7 linked regions of the Homo sapiens genome follow. The protein of the gene in region 5 purifies or fractionates together with the protein of the main gene of each other region. This does not show direct contact. Each region holds a gene or a part of one and is shown on either strand. Other genes may lie near its edges. The genes, in order: ESD, LETM1, TARS1, MDH1, MYLK4, MTHFD1 and RDX.

Region 1 (3,500 bases), on a different chromosome or scaffold from region 5:
ATATTTCCTTTCACAGGCCATATTATACAAAAACAATGCATATCTGGTTAGAAATATAACAACAGATTTAATTCAAAATAATATCAAAAATATAAAATACGAAAATAGATATATAAAAGGGAAACTAAAATTTTGTTATCATAAACGAAGACTTTAATAAATGGGAAAATGCTGTGTTTCTAGATGGATAAAATGAATCTTACGACAAGGTCATGTCTCCAAATTACTCTACGTGTTACTGTAATTCTATTCAAAATCCCAATGGTTGGCTTTTTAACCACATGCAAGTATATAAAATAAAATGTAACAAGTTAAAAAGAAACATAAGAAAATTCCAGTGGAGGTTGGATAGATAGGAAAAATGTGATGGAAAGCATATTAGAAAACATTTTCAGTTCAAGATAGTAAGTTGAGCACAAGCATCTGCCTCCCCACTCCTGTGTAAAGAGAATTTAAAAAGTGCTGATAGTGAGAGAGGGTCATCAGGGAAGGGATCACAACACATTTCTGAAAGATAAAAAGAGGATATAAGTCCTTTTTGACAGGTAAACCAGAGTAAGGAAACATATGTTCAGAGTACATAAGAAACTTCATCAACAAAGAAAGTTAGTGTATCTTACCTTGGCAGCTGAATACTCCAGCTTGGAAGGTCATTTTTTACCTCATTGGCCAGAACGAGTCGCAGGGCCCCATTCAAGGGCAAGAGGAGCAGGAAGTATAATCCTATCATGTGCTCCAAAAGGCAGAGAGCTCACAACATTTGGTGAACAGTTCCCATGCAAATGGACTTGCAGATTCATCTGAAAGTGTGTTATTAAACATGGGCCATTACTACAGAGCAGATGAAACCACAAGATTGTTTCTTGATAGGTGGCTGCAATATTAAAGGTGAAGATGAGAGCTGGGACTTTGGCACTGGTGCTGGATTTTATGTTGATGCCACTGAAGATCCTTGGAAAACCAACTACAGAATGTACTCTTATGTCACAGAGGAGGTAATTTAATTTGTATTGTAATTATTAATTGATGACTGCCAAGAGTTTGATTTTGAACACAAAGTCCTTACAATCCTGAGGATTTTAAACTAGGGTATAAAAGTTACTAGTAAAAATTCCAAAGTTTGCTAGTACTATAGTTCTATTTACTGCAATTTAAATTAACACTAAGTACAATTAAAGAATATAATCATTATATTGAGACCTGTTTATACTACCCAGAATAACCAAGAAAATGGTATATGAAAAAAACCTTTAATTTGCCTGGCAGCTGGTTCATTTGGATGTATTTTATAGTGATAAGCCAAGGCTTAGTTAGAAAACATAAGTGGTAAAGCATTACCTCTATTAATAATATTTGTATGCTGCTTATGCATTTTCTGAATTTTATATGATTTTCATTGTTACTATGTATATCATAAAAACTTAGAAACAATAGTGTAAGTTTTTAATTACCCATAATTCTGTTACCCCCCCAAAACACTTATGTTTTGGTATGTTCCAGACTGTTTCTATGACTAGTTTTCACGTAATTCTAAACTTTTTTATTTTCTTCTTCTTTTTAAGTTACATATAAAAATATTTTCTAGTGTTATTCTGATTTTAATAATTGTGTAATATTCTGTCATATGCCATAATTGACTTTTTCCTCTTATAGAATACTTATGGTTTTGTATATGTTTTTACCCTAATAAATATTACTGCATTGATTATATTTGTGCATAATGTTTTCTCCCTAAGGACTTTTCCTTAGAATATATTCCAAAAAGTGAAATTACTAGGTCAAAACTTAAAAGCATTTTAAAGGTTCTTTCTGCATCACCTTCCTAAAGTGTTTTCTAAGAAGTCTGTACCATATATTTTCCAGGGATATATTAATAATCATGGTCTGCCTGAGGATTTAGTTTTGTTTTGTTTTCATTGTTACTAGTTCAAACCATTGTAAGACTATGATTTGGCAGTATTGATTGTGTAATTATTTTCTGTAACTTTGAAATGTCTGAACTTATTTTCTTTGATATCTTTTGTCACACTATTAAATTTTTTCTAGCTTCCCCAACTCATAAATGCCAATTTTCCAGTGGATCCCCAAAGGATGTCTATTTTTGGCCACTCCATGGGAGGTCATGGAGCTCTGATCTGTGCTTTGAAAAATCCTGGAAAATACAAAGTAAGATTATCTAAACTTCTAGTGATAAATATTTCTCTTGAATAACATAATATTAGGAACCTTCAAAGAGTAAAATTACAATATTGTTAGTATTGGAACTAAACTTTTCTAGTGTTGAGAACTTTGGGGTGTTTGAAGGGTGGGTATTTAATTTGACCATAGAGTGTATGCTGCAGAATCAGACGCATAGGAATTCAGCAAGAGTGCTTTCTTATTGGCCTACTGGAAGTATTATAAAATGTAGCTTCTCCTTTAATTGTTTTTATTCCAACTATAGTTTTGAACACACTTTTTTTCTGTAAAGGTTATTATTACTGATTAATGTTATAGTGGCAGGATCTATCATTTATATTCTTACCAGGGATGTCTTTGTAAAGTTGACTTTGATTTTCTGAGGTAAAAGATATGATTTGTAGAAGCTTAAGAATTGTGTTCTTAATGCCTCTAATGAAAATTGAAATGCAGCTTGATTAAAAAACATCACTCTCAGCCTTTCCCAGAGTCAAATTTGAATAACTACCATATGTAGTATGTCATACTGTGCAGAACAGCATGTTACAAGAGTTGAATAAGGAAGTGTTAAAGCAACTAGCATCTTAAAATTTCTTCTGCCTTTAAATTTACAGGGCTGTTCATGCCCTTAAAATTGGTTTAATTCATTTCCTCCTCTTAGGAAGAACTTGATTATTTTAGGTGTGCTACTGAGAAATGAAAACATTTCTCATAACAGTTTCTTTCTGTGGCATCAAATATTTTGTTTTTGGTACGCTTTATTATCAAGTTTTATTAATTCATGGCCTGACAGTGGGCTTTCTAAGTAAGCACTTTTATTTCCATTTTTTAAGGCAGTCTATCATGTCTGAGGTAGAAAAGCAAACTTAGTTGATTTTTTTGTCCTTTAAAAAAGCTAGTAGATACCACTAAACATTTACATTGATGAGTACTCTGAAGTTGAGAGATCCCATCTCTGCATCTCATCCAGTGAAAAAGAACATTGTATAGAACACAGAGTTGTATTAAAAATTCTGTCATATTGAAATGCATTGCTCACTGCTTTGTTGGTACTGTTTAAGAGAAATGTGTCAGATTTAGTAACATGTTCACTAAGGTAAGCATGAACTGTTTTATATCACTATAGATTAATTTTCAGTGCTAAAAAAGCAGAAACGCTGAACATAGACTTCTGTTTGTATCTTAAATTGCAATGTATTGTTTTGCATTATTTTAGCAACTATACTTATTAGCTCTCTTAATAGAATACACAAAAGATGTATTATGGAAAGGCCTGCAATCTAAGCCAGCAATATATCAAAAGGAAAATTGTTCACAGGGTT
Region 2 (3,500 bases), on a different chromosome or scaffold from region 5:
CATTTGTTGAAACTGGGGAGGACTTGGGGAGGAGCAGAATGAGGAGGGGCGCTAGTTGAGAGTTCTTGGAGGTGTGGACTGTGCCGTGCCCATCAGACCTGTGGGGCGTGTGTATTCAAGTCAGGGAAGAGATTGCCTGGGGAGGAGGTGGAGGTCAGGTAGGGAGGCTCTCCCAGGAGTGGCAAGGGTGAAGCCAGGTGAAGAAAGGTTTGTTTGTTCTTTGACCTGATCCTGGCACCAGCACTGAGGGCTGAGAACCCTGGAAGTTTCCTGAATGATGGGAGTGTCTTTTTTCATTTGTTTGTATTTTGAGACAGGGTCTTGCTCTGTCACCCAGGCTGGAGTGCAGTAGCTTGATCATGGCTCACCACAGCCTCCAAGCGATCCTCCTGCCAGCTGATGTTTTAACATTTTTGTAGACAGGGTCTCTGTTGCTCAGGCTTAACTCCTGAGCTCAACAGCGATCCACCTGCCTTGGCCTCCCAAAGTGCTAGGATTACAGGCGTGAGTTTGGGAGTGTCTTCTGTTATTCGTTATCACTGCACCTGAGTTTATGCTGATGAGGTGACTCCAGGCAGGCCCTTAGATAGATTGAGGTGCTGGCCATGCTGTGATTAGAGGGTGGGAACTTCCTGCCCCTTCCAGGGAGGCGAGAGGGTTTGGAGATTTAGTTCAGTCCCCATGGCCAGTGGGCCAATACTGTAATCAGTCATGAAGCCTTGATGAGAACTTCTGGGTGAGGAGGCTGGTGAGGCTTCCCACTGGCGTCCACCTAGCTCCACAGGACAAAGGATCCTGTGCTCGGGACCTCCCTGGCCATGCTGTCTGGTTGTTCCTAGGTACCAGGTACCCTTTATAATAAACTGTGACAGTAAGTAGAGCCCATTGCTGACATCTGAGTCATTCTTGTGAATGATCAAAACCAAGGCGGTCATGGGAACCCTCAAATGTGTGGTCAGCTGAAGTTGGGTAAGCCTGGGCACATGGAGTGGGGGCAGTCTTGTGGGACTGAGCCCGTACCCTGTGAGGTCTGCACTAACTCTGGGTAGTGTCAGTATGGAATTAAATTGTTGGACTCCCAGTTGGAGAATTCGTTGGTGTTGGAAAAAAGAACAGAAGGGCTCCCAGCAGGGCCTGGGCACAGATGACACCTGTGCTCGTGAGGGACGTGGAGCAATGATCCCCATCACCCCGAACGGCCTTGACTGGGGGTTCCTTGGAGAGCTGGGGACAGAAGCCGTCAGAACAGGTTTTGGGGAGAGCCTAGTAAGGGAGCCAGTGGGACAGGCAGTGTTAGAGAGAAGGTAGGGTCACTGGGGGACAGATCAGGGAACTCTGGGAGACCTGCCAGCCTGCCTGCTTGCCGGGCGGAGCCCTTGAGGCACAGGAGCTGGCCGGGGCAGGGGTGGAGGGGCTGAAGGTGCCATGGTGTGGGGAGGATAGCGGAGAATGCGCTGGGCCCTCTTCATGTGGAGAAAGGTGGGGGCCAAAGCTAGTCTCAGCTGGAGTGAGAAGGGCCTTGGCATGCTCACGTGTGCTGTGCTTTGAATTTTAACTTAAAATGTAACTTGCTGTGTATGAGAACATAGCCAACATTTTCCCCTTAACCCAGCTCCCAGTTCACAGACCGGACTGTTACAAGCCCTAAATGTGGCACGTAGTAGGAATTTCCTTCCCCACAGAACCAGGAGAGTTGCCTCCTGTTAAATGAGGTGAAGTGACGTATCGGTCCACTAGGAGCAGGGTCAGTGCCTGCCCTCCCCATCTTGTTCGTCCTCTCACGGTGGCTCTCGTTGCCGGCTGGAGTGAGCTCCCCCCATCTTAAAGCTGCACTTGCTGCTCCCTGGCTGTTGACTCATTGCAACCCCACTGCTTGGAGGTTCAAGGTCACTGGGCATCTCAGGGTGCTACCTGCTGGCTCCCGGCACCGCCTAGCCTCTGCACAGCCTGGCCTGGCACCTCCGTGGGCTGGTGCCTCTGGCCCTGCTGCTCCTATTCCTGTCTTGTTCCCAGCATGAAGTTTGATCACAATGGGCTCTGAATGTCAGTAATACGAATGAACTCTGACTTTATGCTTATAGGAACTAGAGCAAGTTAGGGAAAGCATCAAAAACATGTTGAAATCCTAAAAATGTGCTGTACACTTATCACTGTTGTTTATACAAGAAATGGCTTACTCTTGGTGTTTTTGTGGTTCTTCTCTTTTTTTTTTTTTTTTTGAGTGCAATGGCGCGATCTCAGCTCACTGCAACCTCTGCCTCCCGGAGGGTTCAGGTGATTATCCTGCCTCAGCCTCCCGAGTAGCTGGGATTACAGGCACCTGCCATCATGTCCGGCTAATTTTTTTTTATTTTTGTGGAGATGGGGTTTCACCATGTGGGCCAGGCTGGTCTTGAACTCCTGACCTCAGGTGATCCACCCGCCTCAGCCTCCCAAAGTGCTGGGATTACAGGCGTGAGCCACCATGCCCGGCCTGTGGTTCTAGTAATTCTTTTTTTTTTTTTTTTTTTTTCTGAGACAGAGTCTTGCTCTGTCGCCCAGGCTGCAGTTCAGTGGTGCGATCTCAGCTCACTGCAAGCTCCGCCTCCCGGGTTCACGTCTGTGCTGGGATTACAGGCGTGAGCCACTGCGCCCGGTCCGGTTGTAGTAATTCTTACAGCTCTTGCCCCTTGGGATCATTGCTTGCTCTATAGGGCTGTCTGCATAGAGGTCATGTTTCCACCAGAGCCAGCTGAAGTGAGTGGGGATGGTGCCACCGGTAGGAGTGCTCCCTCCCTAGGGCTGGCCTGCTTGGCTTCCCTCTTGGGGTGTCTGGAGTCAGGATCTACTTGAGGCTTCCCATCTTTTTTTAGGACTACTTTGAGATACTGTTTTCATAACTGGGGCAGACCCTTCACTTAGCAGTGCTCTGAAACCTTCCAACACTCAGAACTGGCTTCCAGAAACTTACAGAGGTTTCTACAAAAGAGATCTGTACTCTTTCAGATTTTTTTTTTCTTTTTGAGACGGAGTTTCACTCTTGTTGCCCAGGCTGGAGTGCAATGGTGCGATCTCAGCTCACTGCAACCTTTGCCTCCCAGGTTCAAGCTATTCTCCTGACTCAGCCTCCCAAGTAGCTGGGTTTACAAGCATGTGCCACCATACCCGGCTAATTTTGTATTTTTAGTAGGGATGAGGTTTCACCGCTGGTCAAGCTGGTCTTGAACTCCTGGCCTCAGGTGATCCACTCGCCTTTGCCTCCCAAAGTGCTGGGATTACAGGCGTGAGCCACGGCGCCCCGCCTTCTTTCAGACTTAAAAGAAGGTTTCAGGCTGGGAGTGGTGGCTCACGCCTGTAATCCCAACACTTTGGGAGACCAATGCAGGAGGGTCGCTCGAGGCCAAAAGTTGGAGACCAGCCTAGGCAACAAAACGAAACCCCGTCTTTACAAAAATTAGCCTGGCCTGATGGTGCACACCTGTAGTCCCAGCTACTTGGGAGGCTGAGGCAAAAGGATCCCT
Region 3 (3,622 bases), on a different chromosome or scaffold from region 5:
CTGAGGCAGGAGAATGGAATGAACCCAGGAGGCGGAGCTTGCAGTGAGCCAAGATCATGCCACTGCACTCCAGCCTGGGTGACAGAGCAAGACTCCATCTCAAAAAAATAAATAAATAAAAACAAATAAATAAATAAAAAAAATGAAGTGAACACTAAACCATCTAATAGATAAACCATTCAGACTATTCCTGTTACTGCACTCAGTAGTTTTAGTTACAAATGATGACAATCAAAGTTATGTTCCATGGTTGAGTGCACTTTGTCTTATTTGTATGTGAAAACTCACACAGTAGGAAGAAGTTCTGTATTGGTTAACTGAGTTCTCAACTGGAGACAGCACTGACTTCCCCATTTCCCTTTGCGGGTAGGTGGCATTCCAGATTATGTGGTGGTAAGCTTTTCTTTTGCGGGGAGAGAAGACAGGGCAGTACTCCTGATACCTAATAACTATAGAGCAGACATGTTAAACACCCTGTAATTATCAGGCCACTTCCCCAACTGCAGAATTGCCCATCTCACGTGCACACACAGGACCCATGTTGAGAAAAATGAAGAAACTGATGCCTTATTCTTTAAAGTAGTTATAAGTTGAAGATGTAGACCTATCTTGGCATTCTAAAATTCTGTAACAACCCTTCTGAAATGGGTGTAATAAAATGTCAACAGGTTAATTGGTTCGTGATCACTGTGGCTTAAAAATCTAGTTAAAATGCTAAGACTTGTGCACAGTATAGGCAAAGTCACTTAGATTGTTTCAAAAAGTATGCCTTATAGAAATAAACATTTGACATACATAAATAACCCTTGGTTTACACATAACTCGCATTTGAGAAATGAATGTGTTGTAGATCATTTAGAATCTTTTTCAATCAAAAATTGAAAGAAATATTTCGTCACCCAGGTCAACCAGAGATTGCTGGTTTTACTCATGATACTTAAGTAGAGTATGATAGTTACTATTTCACCTTCAGCTGTACTTAAGATGTTTTCCTGGAAAAATTCATTCTGCTTTCTGACCAGGATTTCCAGAAACTCTGACCCTTCTAAGAGGTCTGGGTGGAATTGTGATGGTGATTCTGCTAGTAGACAGTGTAACTTCTGCGTCTACAAAAAGAGGATAGGCCGTCACTGCTCACATGGCTTTGCGTGAAAGCCCAATGGTACTGTCTCTATGGCAGAGATGAGGAAGGAACACCAGCGTCCTCCAACTTTCCTGTTCTTCCTTTGGGTTAATGGCCACTGTAAGGAAACAGTTTTCTGCCACGTGTGGGGTGATTTGAATGTAAAATGCCCAACTCTCATAGCAGGCTGAACAGAAACATTTTTTATACTCATTGTTAATTTGTTCTAATCTAAATTACTTTTAGACTATTAAATATTATTCTATTTTAAAGTTAAGGGACTAATGCCTCTGATAACCTGATTAAAAAAAAAAACTTTCTGATACTCAGAAGTTAAGATTTATTCAGTTGAAGATCATTTCTTTCAGGTGTTGATCGTGTGATATTTTTCACATCTGTAATCTGAGGTTCATATGAAATGATAGTGAAATAAAATTGTTCATTTAGGTCTTTTTGTCATGTTAATATGTTATCAGGTTAATGGGAAGTTTAATCTAGTTAATGTAAAATTAATAAATTGTAATCTAGTTTATTGCTTTTTTGGAAAAGAATACTGAAAACATTGTTTACTTAATACACATGACCTGAGGTAATAAAGAGGAGCTGGCCTTTTTGAGGGGGGAATAATGGCAGTGAATAATATTATCTAAGACAGTTTTGCCAGCTTTAAATTCCTGGAAGTTCATCCAAGAAGTCCTGATCCCTGTGTTCAGTAAAATCATGTGAGATCAAAATATAATTCTGATTTTAGATCTGACAAATTCTGTATCTCTGTTACAATAGGTACGACAACAATTCCACGATGCCAAATTCATGGCAGACATTGATCTGGATCCAGGCTGTACATTGAATAAAAAGATTCGAAATGCACAGTTAGCACAGTATAACTTCATTTTAGGTAAGAATGGAAACTTACCAAAGAAAATTTGCCACACCTCAGGAAAATCTACTGAAACCTTGAGACAGGTTTAAGTGAATTGTAATCAAGAATTTATTTAGTTCCTTCCAGTCCTGATTTTTTTTCTATTATATATTTTAATATATAATAACTATAAAAATAGGCTCATGCATACATACTGGGTTTTTTTTTTTTTCACTTAAATCATGGATGTCTGTGAGAAAATATTTTGCTATTATAACAAGAATGAAGACGCATTGCTTTTAAACACATCTATTGGATTACTTTCTCAAGATAATGCCTTATGTGGGATTACTTGAAAAAAGATATTCATGATGTTTGGGGTTTTATTATTTGGTTGTTACGTTGTCTAGATTGACTCCATAAGCACAGTAGTTTTAGATATTGCAAAGAGTTTCTTTTAAATATCAACACATGGTCACTTGTACCTTTTAATGTATCAGAAGCTATGGGGTAGGTTTTGGGTCCTAGGATCATTTCTTTTCAGATGTTCAGTGTGAATTCTTCCATATCTTTAGATTAAGTCTGACAAAGCTTTGTGTGTTTGTTTTAGTTGTTGGTGAAAAAGAGAAAATCAGTGGCACTGTTAATATCCGCACAAGAGACAATAAGGTCCACGGGGAACGCACCATTTCTGAAACTATCGAGCGGCTACAGCAGCTCAAAGAGTTCCGCAGCAAACAGGCAGAAGAAGAATTTTAATGAAAAAATTACCCAGATTGGCTCCATGGAAAAGGAGGAACAGCGTTTCCGTAAAATTGACTTTGTACTCTGAAAACGTCAATTTATATTGAACTTGGAGGAGTTTGGCAAAGTCTGAATAGGTCAACCTGCAGGCGTAACTATTTTTGACCTAGTCAGTTTTTAAACAATGTGCATTTGAAGGAGTTAATTAAAAGAGAGCCAATAAAATGATTTTACTCATTCAGTATCTGAGTACTGGAAGTGAAACATGAGGAATGCTTTAGTGTAATGTGGGAGAACTTTTTTGTAAATTTAATGCAATTGAAAAAGTTTTCAAATTCAATTAAGATAACTAGAATTGGATTATGGTGTAAAAATAAAAAAAAAATTTATTCACATAAGTTTCAAGACTGCTCTGTCCCTCACATGTACACATACATGCCTGAGACAGATAATGTGGTTCAGTATTTATCTTTACAGTTTTACAGCAAATATAATGCAGGGTGGATGGAGACGGGGTAGGTCTGCAGCATCATAATGCTATTCATAAACTGGGTGTGAGCTGGGTGCTGGCTTCTCAGAGGATAAACACTTTTGGGAGTGTCATTTTTACTTAATGTTGGATGGACACCTTTTCAAACAAAAACTACCATGGATCTATTACAGAGTAGATTTGCACAAATGTTTAAGATAAAACGTGAATCTTCAGAGAAATATCTGTTTATGGCAGACTGTTCTGGACCATAGAATCACTTGGTTTACAAATTCCCTATTTTCTCATAAGGGATCATTTTCAAAATCTTCTACCAATAAATGGTGATTGAAAGGACAGCACAAAGTAAATAATTTCTTATGTGGATAAATACTAATTCCTCCTTGTTAGAATGATATTTTAA
Region 4 (3,500 bases), on a different chromosome or scaffold from region 5:
TCTGATATTATTTCAAAATTTTTTATTACCATTTTATAAAAGATTTTTATAACTTAAAATGCATTTTCCTATGCTATATTGTATTTGGTGTTTCCCAAGCCTCCCCTGTACAAAGGCTACCTGTTAGACATTTTCAGTCAAATTTTAACATAGATTAGTTAGTAACTATATAGTCTGTAACTCTTCAGTGCCTTCCATTCCTCCTAGGTTATTGTTGTGGGTAATCCAGCCAATACCAACTGCCTGACTGCTTCCAAGTCAGCTCCATCCATCCCCAAGGAGAACTTCAGTTGCTTGACTCGTTTGGATCACAACCGAGCTAAAGCTCAAGTAAGAAAAATATATTTTAAATCTTGTGGTTGTTCAACTTTAAAACATTTTTCTCTCACTTTTAAAATAACTGAATCTGAGTTTGTGCTTTTTTCTTGTTTTTGTTTAGTAGGAACCTATTACTTTTATTAAATTAAAAGTAAATTATTATTCATTTGTTAGGGAGTCTTTAAATGTATTCTCTTAAAGGACCAGAGGCTGGACTTCCTACTTGATTTCGTCTTTAACTATATTTCAATTGCTAACTATAATGAAATGCAGTTACTAATGTTCTCTTGTTACAGTGGTTAAAAATTAGTTATACATGATGGTACATAATTTAGTTTAATTTTTTCAGATACATATAATCTCATATAAACAAAGACTTGAGCTTTGTGTGATTGTGTGGTTCTGCTTCTATTTTAGCTGCAGCTAAGCCATCAAATTCAGATTTTAATTTTTAATTTTATATTTAATTTTCATTTTATGTCTTTTTAATATTCTATGTGTATCTGTAAAATTTCCTCCTTTCACTACTTAGGAGCTAAAGTCTGTTGCTAATTTTCTTTACTCTTAGAGCCATAGATAAGTATGCCAAGGAGCCAGTGACCAGGGAATTAACAATAGCTTTTCAAAAAATTAGAAGCCAGGCAACTGATCTGAGCTAGTTTCCTAGGCTTTTTCAGATCTAACTGGTCCTGGTGCCCGTTCTTGGACAGAACCTCTTTCCTTTGCCCTAATGCTTTTCTGGCCATCCCTTCTTGTCTGTAGGTCATCACTGCTAGATAGGTCTATGAGTTCAGTGCTTTTTCTTCTAGAGAAGATAACTTTAGTTTCAAAAAAAAATTGTTGTTAACCAGAAGATGCTGTGAGGTCTAAGCTGAAGCACTACTGCCCTAACCTGAGAATTAATAATCCTTCAGCTCTGGAATGCCTAGTGAAAGAGAAAAGAATATACATTTGTTAAGCATCTACTGTAAATTGAATGCTATACATGTAATTTTCCATTTAATTTTTATAGTAACCATATGGGTATCTCATATTATCCCTGCATTAGGTAAGAAAACTGAGGCCCAGGGAAGTCAGAGAACCTGCTCAGAGTCATACAGCTCATAAATTACGGAGCCACCTTGATTTGCCTGACTCCAAACCCTTATGTATGTTCTTACCTAATGGTATCAACTAACCTTAGTCCACTTACTAGCTCTGTGATTTTGAGAAAGTATATTCAATGTTTAAAATGTAATAATTGTATCTACCTCAGAGAGTTCTTATGAGGATTAAATAAGATCTGTTTTAAGCCCTTAGCATGGTGCCTGCACATAGTAAATACAAGAAAGGTTGGCTGCTATTATTAGTTGATTTCTTCTTTCTAAGAAGCATACAGCCTAAACATTCCTAATTTAGAGGGTTGTTGGATAACAACCCTTAAATTTTTAGCTTAAAGTGCAAATATTCCCTGAGAGGCTATAGGCTGTGAGCTGGGTCTGGTGGTAGCTGAGAACGAATAGGAGTTTGTTTGAATGGCAGGCAGTTTGAGTTCTGTGGGACAGTTGTAAAGGAAGAGATATTATACATGTTACAGTTGCAAACTCTGGATTGCCAGAAAGTGACTTATTTAGTTCCTACAACAAGAAAGTTCCTACAACAATGACACTAACAACCACTTTTTGTTGTTTCACCTGAGGCTTTGGTGGAGACAGGCATTGGAAAATTCTGCTTCCAAAGGTACTTCAAAGAGATACTTTGTCCTGGTGCCTGAAACAGTTCTCACTGCAGGGCTCAAGTCTGAATGAGCAAAGAGGAAAGAAAGTGCTATCTCCTCAGACTTTAACCTTCACTTGGGGACATGTTCTTTGTTACTCCTGGGACCTTGGCTAGGCATTGTTTCAGCATGTCAATCTGGCATAGTGAGAGCTTTTAGGGAGTCATTGAAGAAGCACTTTCTTCCTCTAGAAGAAGTTGTTTATCCAGTGAGAAAAATAACAAACCCAAAGATAAGTTTTTCTTACAGGACTGGTTGCTAGATATTTTTGTCTTGGAATTCAGAGGCCTTAGCGACTTAGGGACTGTTTAACACCTGCAGAACTTGCCTGTGTATTTGCAAACCAGTGCTGTATTTATGTCTGCTGATAAGGTAATTTGACATTGATACCAGATAAGGTAATTTGACAATGATACCAGTTAGCTTGTAAGAAAATTACTAGGGCTGGAGAATTAATCAAAAACTTTTAACAGACCTATGTGACAGACATGAGTGTCTAAGGGAGCAAAGAGCTGTTATCCTGGGTATGTATTAATTTAGACTAATTGTGACATGAATCATATTAAGAAACTATATCTGCTGGATGCAAAGTACCTGGCCTTTGCTGTCCAGACAGAACTGGATTAGCTCAAGAGATAGAAGGAGCAAGAGGAGGAGGGCAACAAGAACAAAGGAAGGCATGGGAGCCAAGGAGGACTGAGGGTGGAGAGGCCTAGAGGCATTTTGTCTTCACTGTACTTGGGAGCATTGAAGCAGACATTCAGGGAAGTTATAGGCTCTAACTTCCTGGTAATATATATCTTGAGTTAATTGTTCAAGGTATAAATTTATCTTTTTCTATATACCATACCAGCTAAATTTAAGTATAAATATAAGAGCAGTTTCTTCCCCAGTTCTTTCTGGTCATGGCAGACGTAAAAAATGGTACTCATTGAACAGCGTGCCACTCTACCCTATCCCACAGGCTAAGCAGATCAATAGCTGGGTACCCCAGAAACCCAACTGTGAACTAATTTGTGGAGACTAATGCAAATATTGTAGATAATAGTCCTAATACTTGCAAGACTTGCAGGGATTAGATCGGTCAAAAGTGATTTACAATATCACAAACATAAATTTTTAAGTAAACTTTTAACTATTTTAGGATTTAAGAAAGCAGTCTCAACTAGTTTAAGAGTGGGAGTGAAAGTAAAGACAGTTTACTTCTTACTTAACTGAATAAATTAGTATGAAGACCAGTCGAGTCATTGCAGACATTTTAGGTAATGGCCTTTTTTTTCATCTTTATCCTTTTCGGTTGGTTGGTTGGGGTTTTTTTTTTTTTTTTTTTTTGCTTTTTATTTTGAAATAATTTTAGACTCAAAAGTCGCAAAAAAATAGTACAGAGAAGGCCCATGTACCCATCACCCATTGATGGTACCTTACA
Region 5 (3,500 bases):
TTCAATATAGACCAAGGAGAAATATCTACAGGCAAAATTAAGTGAGACATGACTTTCTCATTAGGGTTTTCAGTGGTACAAACAGGATAATTTTTTCTGTTTATTAATTTCGGTAGGACAGAGAAGACAAAATATTCTTCTTGGAGAACTTTGAAATCATCAACTAACTGTAATAGTTTATATGAATTTCATTATCTTTCAAGTACTGTTTTTCTCCAAAATCTATGATACAATTTTTATAAATGGGCAACACTCTAAAGAGTGAGATAAGCAGGACACATGGCTCATACCTGTAATCCCAGCACTTTGGGAGGCTGGGGCAAGAGAATCACTGGAGGCCAGGAGTTTGAGACCAGCCCAGGTGACATGGTGAGATGTCTATTTCTACAAAAATAAAAAAATACAAATAAAATAGCGGGCATGGTGGCACACATCTGTAGTCCCAGCTACTTGGGAGGCTGAGGCAGGAGGATTGCTTGAGCCCGGGAGTTCAAGGATGCAGTGAGCTATGATCACACCACTGCACTCCAGCGTGGGCAACAGAGGAAGACCCTGTTTCTGAAGATAAAAAAAAAGAGTGCGATAGTGCTAAGTTGGAACATAAATATATGTAGGGATGTTACTTTTGTGCAGCCAACTACATCCAGAAGTTGATGATTTGGAAGTTAAATATTTTTAGGGTGTTTTTGAGGGAAAAATTGAGACTGCTATTTAACCCCTAGAAACCATCAGAGAATGTCCTTTATAGTAAGTCTCATATCCCTTCTGTAACTTGGGCCTCCTGGCTTCCGTCCTGCAGTTGACACCCTGTGGAAGGTGGGAAGGAATCACTAGGAGCTCCATGTGTCCCATTCAATTTCTTACTTGTAAATGGAGAAGGGCCTAGAGATGTCTGCAATAAATTTCCCTGTCTCTCTCCGTCCACGTGGAGAATGGATAGGTGCATGTGTCAGAGGCACAGAGTTCTCCTTTCCATGGCCTGGAGCCCCTGCCTGCCTAGTTGGTGGGTGCCAGGGCAGCCAGCAGGCTTGGCAGCGGGTGGGTGGAGAAGGACATTCCAGCAGCTCAGATGTCTTCAGGTATGCAGACAGAGCTAGATTAACACGTCTTCATCTTCTGCTGGGGCAGCAGTAAATCTTTAAAATGCCACGCTTTTCTCTCCAGGGACTATAAAAACATGCTTGTCGATTTTCTCCACCTATTCCCCTTTCTCTCTCATCCCTTCTCTCTTTGAGGGGATTAGCACGGCTAATCATAGTAGAAACATCCCCTGTGGTGCACTGGAAAGAATGTACTCTGAATTTCAGACTCTGGTGACATGAAAGCTTTGTTCTGGAAGCTTGCAGTGCAGTTTCTTTAGAGTCTGGAACTACTCTCCAGTCCCAATAGGGGAAGAATTTTATATAGATTTAACAACTTATATTTGTTAAAATAGTTTGATAAAACTCAGATTCTTTTTGTTTTCCTGCTCTTAATCAGATTTTTCTATTTCTTTTATTTTTCTTCTACTGAATTCATTTTTAGCCATCTTCCTTCTTTCCTCTATGTTTTACTGAGTTTATGAAACACTTCATAGCCTTCTTTTCTTCCTTCTACTTAAGTAGTTCTTGTTCTTTTAATTTTTCTTTCTTTCTTTTTTTCTTTTTTTCTTTTTTTGAGACGGAGTCTTGCTCTGTCACCCAGGCTGGAGTGCAGTGGTGCGATCTCAGCTCACTGCAACCTCCGTCTCCCAGGTTGAAGCAATTCTCCTGCCTTAGCCTCCTGAGTAGCCGGGATTACAGGCGCACGCAACCACGCCTGACTCATTTTTTTTTATATTTTTTTTTGTATTTTTAGTAGAGACGGGGTTTCACCACATTGGTCAGGCTGGTCTCAAACTCCTGACCTCATGATCCACCTGCCTTGGCCTCCCAAAGTGCTGAGATTACAGGCGTGAGCCACCGTGCCCGGCCTTGTTCTTTTAATTTTTCTTGTTTGTTTGTTTCTTTTTTTTTTTTTGAGACAGCTTCTCACTCTGTCGCCCAGGCTGGATTGCAGTGGTGTGATCTCAGCTCACTGCAGCTTTGACCTCCCTGGCTCAAGTGATTCTCCTGCCTCAGCCTCCCAAGTAGCTGGGACTAGGCATGCACCACCACCCATGGCTACTTTCTGTATTTTTTTGTAGAGACAGGGGTCTCCATGTGTTGCTCAGACTGGTCTTGAACTCCTGTGCTGAAGTGATCCTCCCACCTTGGCCTCCCAGAGTGCTGGAATTACAGGCATGAGCTGCTGTGTGTGGCCTATTTTTCCTACTTTCCTTTTTATTCTGTTTTCTAATGACTTTTCTTATTCTATTATGTTCCAAAGGCTGTTCAAAATCACCTAAATTCTACCTACTGTGTAAAATTTTAAAAGTTTTCAGCAGATAACCATATGCCATAATAAACTAGATCTAAACATACGTACACGGTGTGGTGTTGAAATCAAGTAAAATTTACAAGACCAAATTGGTCTGACTCATATGAGTGATGAGCTCGATAGCTACTGTGTCCATACCATTAAGTTATAAATGATGAACAGGTTTCATAACTATAATTAGTATTATTTTTGTACAGTTGAATCTGGGTTTTTTTTCTTTTGTCAGTTCTCTGTTATCTATATAGTAAATAGCCCTCGTGTTGTATTTCCCCCAGATTTACTTGAATATTTAGTAGGATCTCTGTCTCATATACACCCCCACACCCCTTTGCTTAATGAAACACAAATGTGCCTGGTGATATTCTCAGCCAACCATTCGGCCCTGCGTGCTTCTCACTGCTTTCCTCGGTGTACCACCCCCATCCCTGCTCCTGAGGCCCGGGGTTGTCTGTGCTCTCCTCCTCCTCCGTTGGTTTTCCCCACCTGCCTGTTCACCCCTAGTTACTCATCCTCCATCCAAAAGGCATGGTCCCAAGTATAAAAGTAGGACACAGGTTGTGAATGCTCACTCTACAAAAATATGTCAGCATAGCCCACCGTTCCACATCCGCGCCTGGAAGACCCCTAAGCAAATCATTTCTGAATTTATCCTAACCCTTGTTGATTTGTGTTTGAAAGCCTTCCTTCATAGGGAATAATTCCTTTTTAAAACCTGGCTTAAGTTCTTCCATATCCCAACCAGGGGGTATCCCAAAGCTGTGGGGGTAGAAACAAGCATGGCCCCAGCAGACTCGGGACCCCACTGTCCCTGGAGTGTTTAAATGCCCGGTACAAATGCTCCCAAGACCAAGCAAAGCAAAATATTTATTAACAGGATGTGCAGAGGGACAGTGGGTTGGAGTAAAGTGTGGATTTTCCTATTTTGATTGCAGTTGGTGGATTTAACACCAGGTGGCATTTCCTGACCATCTGCTGTGAAATTGTACCATCAGCACCATCCGTAATGACTATAACTTAGATCTCAAAATAACAAGGCTGAGGGCAGAGGTTTTGTGATTTTTCAAGTTGCATTTCGCCACCTCCATCCCTGTGCTCCTCACCCT
Region 6 (3,087 bases), on a different chromosome or scaffold from region 5:
AATCAGTTTCTTTTCTTTTCCTTTTTTTTTTTTTTGAGATGGAGTCTTGCTCTGTCACCCAGGCTGGAGTGCAGTGGCAAGATCTCGGCTCACTGCAACCTCCGCCTCCCAGGTTCAAGCGATTCTCCTGCCTCAGCCTCCCAAGTAGCTGGGATTACAGGCACACGCCACCATGCCCAGCTAATTTTTGTATTTTTAGTAGAGATGGGGTTTCACCATGTTGGTCAGGCTGGTCTCAAATTCCTGACCTCAGGTGATCCATCTGCCTTGGCCTCCCAGAGTGCTAGGATTATAGGCATGAGCCACCACGCCCGGCAGGGATCAGTTTCTGAGTTTTTTAACAGGATCAGTGACTTGATTTTTAATATGTAACAAGAGTACCCACTTTATTGACAACTATAAAATGATGTTCTATCTTTATGCCTTGGGCTTTCTTTCTGAAGGAAAAGTGAAAGTAAAGATGACTTTACGTTTATTTTAGACATGGCCTTGCTCTGTCGCCCAGGCAATCGGATGATCATGGCTCACTGTGGCCTCAACCTCCTAGCCTCAAGCAATCCTCCTGCCTTAGCATCCCAAGTAGCTGGAACTACAGGCACATGCCATCATATCCAGCTAATTTTTTATTTCCTGTAGAGATGGGGGTCTCACTATGTTGCCCAGGGTGGTTTAGAACTCCTGGCCTCAAGTGATCCTCTCCACCTCAGCCTGGGATTATAGGCGTGAGCCACTGTGCCCAGCATTAGTTTATTTGTAATGCTTTTTTACATCCTAGATGAGCACAATGCCTGGACTCCCCACCCGGCCCTGTTTTTATGATATTGATTTGGACCCTGAAACAGAACAGGTGAATGGATTATTCTAAACAGGTAAGTTGTTACTGGGTAATAATTTGGCTTTTTTCCTCATGTAGCTTATTTATGAATTATAGGGCTCAAACTGACGCTATAAAAATTCACATTCTAATGCTTTCAAAACATTTCTTTTCAGACTTCCCTGAGGGGAGAGGGGATAGTAATGAGAGTTGGCAATAACCAATGAATTGAAATATTTATATTTCAACACATTTTTGGAAGAAGCGCAGCATGGCTTGTCACAGGTTGACAGTGTAGGGGAGAAAACTGCTGTCCAATAAACTACAGAGGAAACTACAGGAGAGGTTAGACTCCCTCTGCTGAAGCCCCAGGAGGCTTGGGGTTCAGAGTTGATGACACATTGCAGGTCAGGAACAGCTGACGGTCTGTATACTCTGAATAGGTAGTTAGAAGGCAAGAATTAGCAAATGTCTTAGGAAGTATAATAGAAAAGAGAAGGAAACAGGACCAATCTGGCAGTTCTTAGGGCCTTAGGTGAAAGGGCCCTGAGTACCGACTGCAATGAGTGACATTGCATTGTTTGATATTTTTGAAATTTCAACAGGACGTGTCTCTCCTTAGGCAGACCCTTGGGGCTGAAGCAGCAAGTTGCAGTGTGCACTTATATCCCTAGACACATCCTGTTGAAACTGCAAAAATATCAAACATGAAAATCCTAACATCTTTCTCCAGAGACGAAAAAAGTGGCTTGCCTATGAAAAGAATGAGAACTAGACTTAACGCCCGTCTTACTGGCAATAAGAAGCTTTTAGACAATGGAGGAGTGTCCTGTAAGGTCACAGGGAAGATGACTTTCAACATGTGCTCACACCTAGCCGAATCTATCTGGATATTTTCAGACGTGCAAGGGTTTGCCACCCCACATCTCTTCCTAAGAAGTTATTTAGCAATGTACTTAGCAAAATGAGGAATTAACCAAGAAAAAAGGAAGACGTGAGTTTTGGGAAACTGAACCCTCATTTGGACATTAGCGAAGGGGCATTCTGATAACCATGCAAATGACCTGAAGTTACAAATCCTGTGTGGAACAGGTTGGGGGAGCACCTGAGAAAAACTAGAAAAAGCTAGAAAAGACAAGGATATCAAAGGGTCATAGTATAAAACAAAAGCTCTTGCATTATTTGAGAAAGTTAAGGTCCAAGTAGAAGCAAACTGTAGTTTGATGCTAGAACACTATTCTTTGAGAGGGTATGTGTGATACTCGAAATGCAGTCATGGCTCACGGCTTGGTCTGGTCTTGAACAGTATTCACACAGTACTATGGAAATACCATGCATCATTTTCAAGTCCATTTATGGACACGCCCTAGAAGAGCTGGTGGCAGGAAAGGATGTAAATGTTAACAGCTTTGGCAATGTGAGTGGGTAATGGTGCAGTATGGAAGGAACAGGAAACATTTCAGTGCTTGCTTAGAGAAAACATTTATTTCTTGTTTTTCCTTCCAGATCACCATCCATCTTCAAGAAGCTACTTTGAAAGTCTGGCCAGTGTCTATTCAGGCCCACTGGGAGTTAGGAAGTATAAGTAAGCCAAGAGAAGTCAGCCCCTGCCCAGAAGATCTGAAACTAATAGTAGGAGTTTCCCCAGAAGTCATTTTCAGCCTTAATTCTCATCATGTATAAATTAACATAAATCATGCATGTCTGTTTACTTTAGTGACGTTCCACAGAATAAAAGGAAACAAGTTTGCCATCTTGGTGTTGCAATATGAATTACAGCCTTAACAGACTGTGCCACAGGTCTCTGCCATCCTTTGTGAGCTCATTTGTCAGGCAGACCCTTGGGCTGAAGATGCAAGTTGCAGTGTGCCCTTTATGATACTGTTGTGTTTAGAGGGAAATGTATGCATGCTTGTGTATTTCTGAGAGGACACATAATTCAGGGGACCTCCTGAGAGGGTTGGGTTGGAAGTTGATGACTTACCTTTTAATCTTATACCTTTCTATATTGTTGAATTTTGTTTTTCTACCCTGAGGAAGTATTGCTTATACAAGTTTTTGCCTGAACTTCCTTGGAATTCCCATTTCTGTCACAGCTTTAGCACTGTCTATGTTTAGAGTGCTCAAGAAGGATGGTCATGCAGCATTAGCCTTAGGTGAGCCTCTATTCTGTTGGTGCAGCAAGTATTCATTGAGTTTCTTCTAAATGCCTGGGCTCCACCCTTCCCTACAGACTTTTTATTTTTATTTTTATTTTTTTGAGACAGTGTCTC
Region 7 (3,500 bases), on a different chromosome or scaffold from region 5:
AATTGAGTAATCAGACTATTATGGTGGAATTTCATTTCATATAAGGATTACCTTTTGTTTTATAATCAGAATTACTTTAATTTTTTTTTTAAATGTTAAAGAATAGGAATGCTTTATCTAAACAAGTACAGCATTGATCTTTCAGTGTTAAGCCAGATTGCTGTTTGGTTGAGCAGCAGATGAAGTAATTGGCTTACATTTCATAACTCATGTGATTGAAAAAAATCTCTTAAACACTACAATAACACACAAGCACAGTTTATTTTAAATATGGGTGTGCTCTAACCTACTCTATTTAAAAAGAAGGAAGGTGGCTAAATGCTTTAGATAGGGTTGCTTGTGGTTGCTAGTGCAAATGCCTATTTCAAGATTTGTTCCTTAATTTTGTAGGTCAGTTGTTCCTTCAGAGTTGATATTCCATGGAGGACTAATTCAAGCCATGTTATCTTAAAATGAGACTTAGTCATAAAGTTAGAATACCATTTTTTTTTCATTTTCTGTTTAGAACAGAGAGGATATTTTCACAGTGATTGGCTTATTCCAGTATGGTATATCGGACACTTTTTCTCAGTATCTAAGTACAGTCTGGGGAGGAAATGAGTAATTAGGTTATTTGGTGATAACAAATCAAATAAAATAATTTAGTGATTCTGATACATTCTGATTTCTTGTATTGAAAAACCCAGATGAGCAATCTGTTCTTACTGTAGAAAAGTTTAGCTCTTGTGGTATAGATAATTAGCTCCACCAGATAGTATTGCTTCCCTTTGAAAAGAGCTAAATATACATAAACTTTTACATACCAGGTTTCTGACTTGGGCGGCTGGGTATTTGGTAATACCTTTTATCAAAATGAGTGGAAGAAAAAATACATTTGAGGGGGAAGATGAATTCAGTTTTGAACCTATTGAGTTTGAAATATGTGCAATATAACCAAGAGAGATATCTGGTATTTATTTGCATATGTGGGTGCAGACCTTTTAGAAACAGTCTTGGACTATAGATACAGTTTTGGGAGTAATCAGTGAATAGATGGTAATTAAACCATGAGAATGAAAGAGATCAACCTACCAAGTACATAAAAATGAGAAAAAGACCTAGGACAGATCTTGTTGGACCTCAGCTTTTGTCTTTGGGTTCTGCATTCACAGAGTCAACCAACCACAGATTGAAAATATGTGAAAAAAATAACACAGCAATGAAAAGGTACAAAATTTTAAAAATACAGGATAACAATACATAGCATTTGTAGTGTATTAGTGTATTATTATACTACATAGTAGTAATAATATAGTGTATTAGTATTATTAGCCTAGAGATGATTGAAAGTATACAAGAGGATGTGCATAGGTTATATGCAAATATTGCACCATTTTATATCAGGGACTTGAGCATCCACAGTTTTTGGTATCCAAGGGGAGTCCTGGAAGCAATCCTTTATGGATATGGAGGGACAACTGTACTGAGACACTGGCCACAGATTCAAGAATAATTCTATACTAGAAGATGGCTGGGCATGGTGGCACATGCTTGTAATCCCAGCTACTCGGGAATCTGAGACCTGAGAATCACTGGAACCCGGGAGGCGGAGGTTGCAGTGAGCCAAGATGGCGCCACTGCACTCCAGCCTGGGCGACAGAGCGAGACTCCATCTCAGAAAACAAGAATAATACCAGAAGAGTATTATATCATGGAAGCCAAGGTAAAAGAATACTTTGATGAAGAGAATGGTCAGCACTGCCAAATGGTACCAAGAGGTCAAATATGAGGAGAACTAAAGTATCTGTTGGAATAAGGAGCTTGGTAGTGACCTTAGAAGAGCAGTTTCCAGCCGGGTGTGGTGGCTCACACCTGTAATCCCAGCACTTTGGGAGGCCGAGGTGGGCGGATCACCTGAGGCTGGGAGTTCAAGACCAGGCTGACCAACATGGAGAAACCCCGTCTCTACTAAAAATACAAAATTAGCCGGGCGTGGTGGTGCATGCCTGTAATCCTAGCTACTGGAGAGGCTCAGGCAGGAGAATCGCTTGAACCCGGGAGGTGGAGTTTGCAGTGAGCCGAGATCATGCCATTGCACTCCAGCCTAGGCAACAAGAGCGAAACTCTGTCTAAAGAAAAAAAAAAAAAGAAGAACAGTTACCATAGAGTATTGGGTGTTTGAGCCAGATTATGGTAGACTGGGGGCAGTGGATGTCAGGTATGGAAATTGAGGTTAGTGTATAATGGACAGTCCATAAAAGAAAGTTGTCTCTGAAAAAGAAAAAAAAATAGGGGTTGGGAAAAATTGATTAATTCATTTATTCACTCTACAAATTTTCGAGGCCCTCTTTAGTACTGGCATTGGGCATATAATTATGGTAAGCAATTGACTGCACTGGGTTATGTCTCCAAGGCTGATTGCATGCCTCTCTGTGAGCCCAGAGGCCAGACAGCAAGAAAGACAAGAAACTGTGGAAACCTAAGCTCTCTCAGAAGGAAGATGAAACTCTTCTCCCCAAAAGCAAGAGCTTGGAAAAGATGCCTAGAGAAAGGAGCAGAGTATAATAAGAACATAACAGTATGTCTGAGACCCCTTTAAGGAATTTACTCTAAGTAGTAGGTAACTTATCCAGGGGGAGATTTTATCATTCCTTTATGCTGCCAAGAAATCCTTGGGTTTCATGCAAGATTTTTTATATAGTAAAACAGTAATATTTTAACACCACAGCTTCTGCTGTCAGTAAAGTAGGATCTGGTAAATAAAGGTGAATAATTATCATATGAGCCAAAGAGAATAGAAGTCACAAACTGTAGTGTGCATAGTAGGTAACTTATAATCATGTTGACTTTGCTGATTTGGTGTTAAAATAGTAGTAGTAGAATATAATGTTTGTATTTGGCTGGGCGTGGTAGCTCACGCCTGTAATCCCAGCACTTTGGGAGGTCGAGGCAGGTGGATCACTTGAGGTCAGGAGTTCAAGACCAACCTGGCCAACATGGCGAAACCCCGTCTCTACTAAAAATACCAAAAAAACACACAAAAAAGAAAAATTAGCCAGGCATTATGGCGCACGCCTGTAATCCCAGCTACGCGGGAGGCCGAGAGCATCGTGGCACACACCTATAATCCCAGCTACTTGGGAGGTTGAGACAGGAGAATCACTTGAACCCAGGAAGCAGAGGTTGCAGTGAACCGAGATTGTGCCACTGCACTCCAGCCTGGGCAACAGAGCGAGACTCCATCTCAAAAAAAAAAAAAAAAAAAAAAGAATGTATTTGCTCACATTTGAATTAAGAACACTGGAAGGATACAAAAACAAGTTATTTGGGGGGTATTGGACTGGAGTATGACTTTTCACTCTACTTTTTAATTGAAAGTATTACCTACCTAAAACAACAAAATTAGTAGCAAAAAAGTAAATACATAAAGGAAGAATTAGGGCCCAAGAATTCTGGTTTTCAGTCTGGTCTTTATCTATTAACAATGAGCCATTTTTTTATCTAATGTTTTATTCCTTTGA

Evidence for each region.
Region 1: the proteins of MYLK4 (region 5) and ESD purify together in Homo sapiens (affinity purification with mass spectrometry; one large-scale study listed by BioGRID and IntAct). This does not show direct contact.
Region 2: the proteins of MYLK4 (region 5) and LETM1 purify together in Homo sapiens (affinity purification with mass spectrometry; one large-scale study listed by BioGRID and IntAct). This does not show direct contact.
Region 3: the proteins of MYLK4 (region 5) and TARS1 purify together in Homo sapiens (affinity purification with mass spectrometry; one large-scale study listed by BioGRID and IntAct). This does not show direct contact.
Region 4: the proteins of MYLK4 (region 5) and MDH1 purify together in Homo sapiens (affinity purification with mass spectrometry; one large-scale study listed by BioGRID and IntAct). This does not show direct contact.
Region 6: the proteins of MYLK4 (region 5) and MTHFD1 purify together in Homo sapiens (affinity purification with mass spectrometry; one large-scale study listed by BioGRID and IntAct). This does not show direct contact.
Region 7: the proteins of MYLK4 (region 5) and RDX purify together in Homo sapiens (affinity purification with mass spectrometry; one large-scale study listed by BioGRID and IntAct). This does not show direct contact.

What each region holds. Positions count from the first base shown.
Region 1 is NC_000013.11:46,780,162-46,783,661, reverse strand, and holds part of ESD (S-formylglutathione hydrolase), read left to right. Parts: intron 1-870; coding exon 871-995; intron 996-2,046; coding exon 2,047-2,166; intron 2,167-3,500.
Region 2 is NC_000004.12:1,849,657-1,853,156, reverse strand, and holds part of LETM1 (mitochondrial proton/calcium exchanger protein precursor), read left to right. Parts: intron 1-3,500. UniProt on the Homo sapiens protein: Plays an important role in maintenance of mitochondrial morphology and in mediating either calcium or potassium/proton antiport. Mediates proton-dependent calcium efflux from mitochondrion.
Region 3 is NC_000005.10:33,464,965-33,468,586, forward strand, and holds the end of TARS1 (threonine--tRNA ligase 1, cytoplasmic), read left to right. Parts: intron 1-1,906; coding exon 1,907-2,021; intron 2,022-2,595; coding exon 2,596-2,744; 3' UTR 2,745-3,122; downstream 3,123-3,622. UniProt on the Homo sapiens protein: Catalyzes the attachment of threonine to tRNA(Thr) in a two-step reaction: threonine is first activated by ATP to form Thr-AMP and then transferred to the acceptor end of tRNA(Thr).
Region 4 is NC_000002.12:63,598,963-63,602,462, forward strand, and holds part of MDH1 (malate dehydrogenase, cytoplasmic), read left to right. Parts: intron 1-207; coding exon 208-330; intron 331-3,500. UniProt on the Homo sapiens protein: Catalyzes the reduction of aromatic alpha-keto acids in the presence of NADH. Plays essential roles in the malate-aspartate shuttle and the tricarboxylic acid cycle, important in mitochondrial NADH supply for oxidative phosphorylation.
Region 5 is NC_000006.12:2,744,423-2,747,922, reverse strand, and holds part of MYLK4 (myosin light chain kinase family member 4), read left to right. Parts: intron 1-3,500.
Region 6 is NC_000014.9:64,457,439-64,460,525, forward strand, and holds the end of MTHFD1 (C-1-tetrahydrofolate synthase, cytoplasmic), read left to right. Parts: intron 1-775; coding exon 776-865; 3' UTR 866-869; intron 870-2,320; coding exon of another isoform or gene 2,321-2,497; 3' UTR 2,498-2,587; downstream 2,588-3,087. UniProt on the Homo sapiens protein: Trifunctional enzyme that catalyzes the interconversion of three forms of one-carbon-substituted tetrahydrofolate: (6R)-5,10-methylene-5,6,7,8-tetrahydrofolate, 5,10-methenyltetrahydrofolate and (6S)-10-formyltetrahydrofolate.
Region 7 is NC_000011.10:110,258,615-110,262,114, reverse strand, and holds part of RDX (radixin), read left to right. Parts: intron 1-3,500. UniProt on the Homo sapiens protein: Probably plays a crucial role in the binding of the barbed end of actin filaments to the plasma membrane.